Linked DNA regions of Homo sapiens. The protein of the gene in region 1 interacts with the protein of each later gene in a biochemical or structural test. Each region holds a gene or a part of one and is shown on either strand. Other genes may lie near its edges.

What was found.
Region 2: the proteins of TRIM33 (region 1) and ERG form a complex in vitro, tested with the Homo sapiens proteins (one large-scale study listed by BioGRID).

What each region holds. Positions count from the first base shown.
Region 1 is NC_000001.11:114,501,204-114,504,703, forward strand, and holds part of TRIM33 (E3 ubiquitin-protein ligase TRIM33), read right to left. Parts: intron 1-3,500. UniProt on the Homo sapiens protein: Acts as an E3 ubiquitin-protein ligase. Promotes SMAD4 ubiquitination, nuclear exclusion and degradation via the ubiquitin proteasome pathway. According to PubMed:16751102, does not promote a decrease in the level of endogenous SMAD4.
Region 2 is NC_000021.9:38,397,478-38,400,977, reverse strand, and holds part of ERG (transcriptional regulator ERG), read left to right. Parts: intron 1-332; coding exon 333-404; coding exon of another isoform or gene 405-616; exon of another isoform or gene 617-906; intron 907-3,500. UniProt on the Homo sapiens protein: Transcriptional regulator. May participate in transcriptional regulation through the recruitment of SETDB1 histone methyltransferase and subsequent modification of local chromatin structure.

The DNA.
Region 1 (3,500 bases):
AAAAAAAAAGAATTTGGGAGGGACTTGGCAGGCAGTTCTGGCTTAGTGCCTCTAAGAAGGCTGCAGTCAAGATGTCAGCCAGGAAGGACTGCAGTCATCTGAAAGCTTGATTAGGATAGAGAATCTACCTCAAAAGCGGCTCTTTCACATAGCTGGCAAGTTGGTGCTGGGTCTTTGCAGAAGACCTCAATTTTTCTCCATATGGCCTCTTTAAAGGACTACTAGAGTATCTTTCACAGAATGACAGCTGTTTTTCACCCAGAACAAGGGATTCAAAGAGCAAGGAAAAAACTGTATATATGGCTTTAATGACTTTTTAATAAAGTCACTATTAATTCTATTATATTCTCTTGGTCACGGAGACCAGCCTTGAGCAACTGGACAGCAACCATACAACGGTGTGAATAACAGGAGAAAAGGAACAAGGGGCCATCTTAGAGGCTGGCTACCACACCAAGCCATAGGCTCAGAATAAATCTTCAACCTACATCATCAACAAAGGATCAGTATACAGAATTTGTCAAGAATTCTTGTAAATCAAAACAAAAAATGTAAGCAATCTAAAGAAAAACATAAAACACATGGACAAATAATTCACAAAAGGAACATAAATAGCATATAAGCATTCAAATGTACTCATTAGTACCATATAGTGCATGCTATTTACTCATCACTGGGGCATAGGCTTTAAATATTTTTCTAAAAATGGTATATTTATGTTTATCCATCCTTGTTCTTTTTCCCACTTCCCCTTGAGTCAAATGGCTAGGGATAGATGTGCAATTTGTGGCCAAAGAAGAGACAGAGGTTAATTTATCTACCATCCTGAGCCCAATCTCTGAAGTTGGCTTAGATAGACTGTCATAAACATGAAAAAAATCAGTAGATCTATAGTGACCTATTTTTAGAAGTTTAACTTCAGTTAATAAGTACTTTCTTCATTTTTACATTTTACTAAAGGGAGGCTTTTTCTGAACTGTTATGGGTACTCCAAAATGAAGAACTATAAATGTATAAATCTGCCACCTACTATCTTATGATCTGACATTCTTCCTACTGGCCCAAAGACTCTGAGACATTATCATGTTCTTAATGTCCTTTAACAGAGCAGGGCTCAAACTTCCTGGTCTCAGGACCTCTCTTACAGTCTTAGTTACTGAGGAACACAAAGAGCTTTTGTTTAGATGGGGTATGACCATCAAATGTATAATAAAAATGGATGTTTTAAATATATTTTAATTCATTACAAGATGAATTAAAAATGAATCTTAAATTTTAAAATGTTAAAATGACGTTTACTTTATTACTAGTTTTGTTTGTTTTCTCAGACAGTCTCACTGTCACTCAGACTGGAGTGCAACGGCATGATCGCAGTTCACTGTAGCCTCAACCTCCCAGCCTCAAGTGATCCTCCCACCTCAGCATCCTGAGTAGCTGGAACTACAGGCGCACACCACCACACTCGGATAATTTTTTTATTTTTTCTGGAGTCGGAGTCTCACTATATTCCCCAGGCTGGTCTTGAACTCCTGGGCTCAAGTGATCCTCCCACCTCAGCCTTCGAAAGTGCTGGGATTATAGGCATGAGCCACCATGTCCGGCACGACAGGTTTAAACAACACTTTTAAAAATCAGAAATAACTGTATTTCCTAAAACAAAAAAAAATTAATAAAGAGTGTCATTGTGATACATTTTAAAGATCTCTTTAACATGTGGTTTAATAGAATATGGCTGGATATATGCTTCTGCATTTAATGTTTCAATATGTTGTTTCTTTGAAGAATATAAAGAAAATCTGGCTTCATACAGCTAAGTATCTAAGAAAAGGGAAAAGCAGATTTTAATACCCTTTTCAGATCATTGTGTGGATATTTTTCTTTGATATAACACAAAAACTTAAGAAGAATATTTATTTTTTAAACATCAGTTGCAATGTGGCATCTCAAACCTTAAAAATAAACTTGACTACTCTCTCGCGTTAAAATCTATTTATTGGCTGGGAGTGGTGGTTCATGCCTGTAATACCAACACTTTGGGAGGCTGAGGTGGGCAGATCAACTGAGGTCAGGAGTTCAAGACCAGCCTGGCCAACATGGCAAAACCCCATCTCTACTAAAAATACAAAAATTAGCCAGGCATGGTAGCGTGTGCCTGTAATCCCAGCTACTTGGGAGGCTGAGGCAGAACTGCTTAAACCCAGGAGGCGGAGGTCGCGGTGAGCCAAGATTGCGCCACTGCACTCCAGTGTGGGTGACAAAGCAAGACTCCATCTCAAAAAATAAAAATAATAAAATAAAATACAATCTATTTATTATTGCTCTGTTTTGCACTTAACATCATGCATTTCTCATTTAGAATATATTGCAATAAGCTACGCAGATCTTTGAAATGTTGACATTACACAATATCAAAAAAATTCACGTTCATTAATATCACCACCAATCTCTTCAGGAAAGTCTTTAAATACTGAGAAACTGACCAGCTCATGGCAGCAAATACCAATTTTCCAAAATTCTAATTTTCATTTAAAATCTCAATTTTTATCACTGGCAACATATGTCAGTTGTTTTCCTGGAAATGACAGGCTCAATTCATTCACTTCTGAGAAAATGGCTGCCAAATACCCATGCCTAAAAACCATAGTTTTTAAGTAAAACCATAGTTTCAAGTAAAATAGTTTTCTATGAAAAAAAGCAAATTCAGCTTGGAACTCAAAAAACTGCACAAGTACTCTTCTTCCACTTTCTTCCGCAGCAGAAGCATTTTAGGCACATTTCCCACTTCATCACACAGAGCTTTAAAGATCAAAATGTAATATAGTAATTGTTACTGTTTCATAAAGGATATTAAGTGACAATGACATAGGTTTATTTTTGTTCTTTCTCTAAGTGTGTGAAAGTAAATATGCAATGACTTTTATAGTATGGCTTGGAGCCATTATCCTTTTTTTTTATTTTTTTATTTTTTTTATTTTTTTAAAGACAGGGTCTCACGCCATTGCCAAGGCTGGAGTACAATGGCACAATCATGGCTCACTGCAGCCTCGACACTCCGTGCCTCAGGCAATTCTCCCACTTCAGTCTCCTGAGTAGCTGCGACTACAGACACGCACTACCATGCCTATTTAATTTTTTTGTATTTTTTGTAGACACAGGGTTTCATCATGTTACCTAGACTAGTCCCCTACTCCTGGACTCAAGCAATCCACCCACCTCGGCCTCCCAAATGGAGTCACTCACCATCTTAATTCACGCAGAGGTGATGGCAGTTTTATCCATCATTGCTTTTGCACCATTAATATAAATGTCAGCGCAGTGAATAAGGAGAATATCAAATTAGTGTAATTATGAAAATAGTTTTAAACTTGTGCACCTCTAAAAGGGTCTCAGTGACACGGTCACTACCATCACCCCCACCCCAGCATTCTGTGGCCCACACTTTGAGAATCACTGCTTTAAGGTATTCTCATTTAGGACCCACTGACAGCAGAATCCATGAG
Region 2 (3,500 bases), on another chromosome or scaffold:
ATGTACCATATAATTTTTTAATAAAACGAGATTGCCCAGTGGGAAGTGGGATTGAGGGGGACACAGATAGGGCTTCATCAAGAAGTTATAAAATCAAAACACAAAACGCTTTATAGCAAACGGGGCACAGGAGTACACCAAGGCTCCAAGTTTCACTTCCATCTTGAGAATCTGACAGGTGCACCTGTCTGTTTCTCCGGAGCTCTGTTAAGGCAGGTTTGAGGAGGTCTCTTCCCTTTGTTGTCATAGGGAAAAGTAGATTTGGCGCTGATGTTGAGATCGACAACCACAACAAAAGACCTTCACATGTTTGTCTTTCCTTTTGTCTGCAGGGGGTGCAGCTTTTATTTTCCCAAATACTTCAGTATATCCTGAAGCTACGCAAAGAATTACAACTAGGCCAGGTACGAAAACACCCCTGTGTGATCTCTTCATTGAGAGACATCCCAGATGTCCTGCTGAGATCCGTGCCCTAAGTCACGTGATACAAAGAGAGCTGATCCCGGAGCTGAAGCCAGTCCCAGACAGTCTTATTCTGCCTCTGTTGATTTGGAGACTAAATCCACTCAAACCATTTCATTCAAAGACCACACTAAAGGAATTAAGAGCAGATTAGCCCTTTAACTAGCTTTTCAGAAAGACAGATGGGCAAAGAAGGCATCCTGGATGCCTGGCAGTTAGGAATAGGCCGACTTTTGAACTAACAGAAGGATCTGTCCCTCCTCGGGGGAAGAGCACAAAACAAGGACACTCCCCAGATTCACAGTGACCGATTATCAGTATGTCACAAGAAGCCAGTCTTGCAGAGCAGAAGCATGCAACCAGTAGTATTTACATCTGAATCTTACTGCCTGTCCTCCAAATGATTTAATTAGGTAATAAATTTACATGCCATTCATGCAAAAATAAACATCTATCAAGTGCCCATTAGTGCCAAGCGTGGTGTTAGACTCTGGGAATATATAGATGAACCAGGCTTCAGTAAGCTTCCTGTCTTCAGAAAGTTTACTTCTTCATTCAGCTTGGTTTGTTCATTTGCTGAGTGCCTCCTCTGTGCCAGCCACGGATGGTATGATGGTGAACAAACCGAAATGTTTTGCCTCCAGTTCTAGATGTTTCAGTAGAGTGACCTAGAGCCAGAGAGACACATATGTACACATAAATGTTTTCCCTAATGTGATAGATTTTATGGTAGAGGAACCACTTCTAGCAATACAGGGCGTAGGAGCAGGGGTGGGGAGGAACTCAATCCCCCATGAAAGGCATAAAGATGCTTTCCAGAGGAATGGCCACATGGCAAAGGGGAATTAGATGTTTGCCAGACGAATAATGAGCAGGGAGAGAGGGCATTTCCCAGAAGGGTATAGCTTGCCTTTAGCATTTGTCCTCTCCCTGGGACTTACATCAGCCCGATAAGCTAGGTATCATTGTACCAGCCTCACAGCTGATGACATTGTGTTCAGGGTGGTGGGATGGTTTCTCCATATTCATACATGCTTCCAGAATTCATGTTAAACTCTATCACATATCCGGAATACACAAGTCTCAGTTCGAACTGGTTCAAGATCTAGGCTTGGCAACTACTCTTTCTTTCTAATGAGAAAGACTGGGGGCCCAGGGAGCTAAAGAGAATGAATGAGGAAGCTTCTCAGGCTGTTCAAATACTGACACTGCCCTGGTTACTGCCTAGTGACTTCAGGCTGGCAATTTTCTCTTCTCTAACGTCAGAGAAAAAGTTTACTGTCTTGCTCCTGGGAAGCATGATGGAAAGGCTTAGCAGCTAAGGGGTACTAAGAGGTAGTAAGTCATCTCTGTCATGTAAAAGATTTCACAGGCCATTGAAACATGGGCAAGACCCAGTGCCTAGAGTCTGCAAGATTGGTCCTAAAGACATCCACCACGTGTATTGCGAGTGGAAAATAGAAATTCATGTTTGACTCAAGCTTTAGAGATTTTGTAATTCTGTGAGCATTTAAAAAATATTTCCATATAAACTAAAAAAATAAAAACTATTTCCAAAACATTTGGCTAGGGTTTTAAAAATTTTTTTACTTTTTAATTTTGTATTTGTTTGTTTATGTTAAGACATCTCATAGGTGCCTCTGACTGAGTTGCAAAGCCAGGGGTTGTGAGCTAGTATTATAAACTGTGTTAAAAGATCACAACACTGGCCAAATTCATTGGCACAATCTCTCTGTCAGACAAGCCAGCTGACTGATGCTACCTGGTTAAGACAGTGGGTCCTGGAGCTGCTTTGTTTTCACATTTTAGGATATGGTGGATTTGGAAGGTATGGCCCATCCAGGTGGATGGAGAAGAGGGTGACTGTGAGGATGTTGGTTGGGACTCCCTCTCTGCCCAACCCAGGGAAGGCAAGGGTGGCAAACTCAGACACCTCCCATGCCGCTCTGATGGTGGTCTTCCATGGGCCCATAATTTGAGCGTGACCTGGGAGAGAGCACACTTCCACAGCTCCACTACTAGTCAAGTATGTTTTCGCGACTCAGTTTGTACCTGAAATAACCTGTTTTGACCACTGCTACTGTGATTATGAGAACCAATACAAATATTGGTATCTGACCTGTAAAGAATTTAAAGCAGACTGAACAAGCCAGAGGACTATTTACTGTAGGCCCTATTCAGGGACTTGAACTTGGAGATAAGAACTAGTTATACACCTCGGGTCATCCATTGCTAAGCGATCAACCTTAAAGGACTGCTCCTGTGGAGATAAAAGCTGTGAACCTGCAACTGGAGAATGAACGTCGTGATGGCTGAGGGGGAAGAGCTTTTGCATCACTAACTTTCAGAGCTGAACGAGCTCCAGAGGGAGGTCACTGGGAATCTGACGATATCCCTGTGGTCAGTGGGTACCTGACTACTTTCAGAAAGGTGATTGTTGACTGTTTCTTTGAAGGTCCTTGGGGATACAGACCCAAATCCCTGTCTCCTCCACTCTTGGTTTGCTGTGCCATGATCTTCATTTCCATACCCTTTGTCTAATCCCACATCCGAGGGAACCGAACTCTGGTCAGCGTTATTGTGCTGACCATGAAGCAAGCCAGGCTCCTAGGTAACAACTCTACTTAGACCAGAATCTGTCTCTTCTCTGCATGGTGGCCGTTTCATTATAGAGTCCCTGATAGAGGAGACAGTGGTGTTCAGGGTTTACTGGTTAAATTAGACAGCATTCCGCACCCTTTCTGCAGAGACTCCTACACATGTGTGTTGTCCTGCTGCATCCACCTTCCCAGCACTTCCTCACCACCCTTCCCTCCTTCCCTTCCCACTGTGAGTCACCCATCCCTGGGTTACTGCCCCAACCTACCTTTTCTTTTCTTTTATCTTCTTTTCTCTTCTTTTTTTTTTTTTTTTTTTTTTGAGATGGAGTCTCACTCTGTTGCCAGGCTGAAGTGCAGTGGTGCAATCTCGGCTCACCACAACCTCTGCCTCCCGAGTTCAAGTGATTCTTCTGCCTCAGCCTCCCGAGTAGCTGGGGC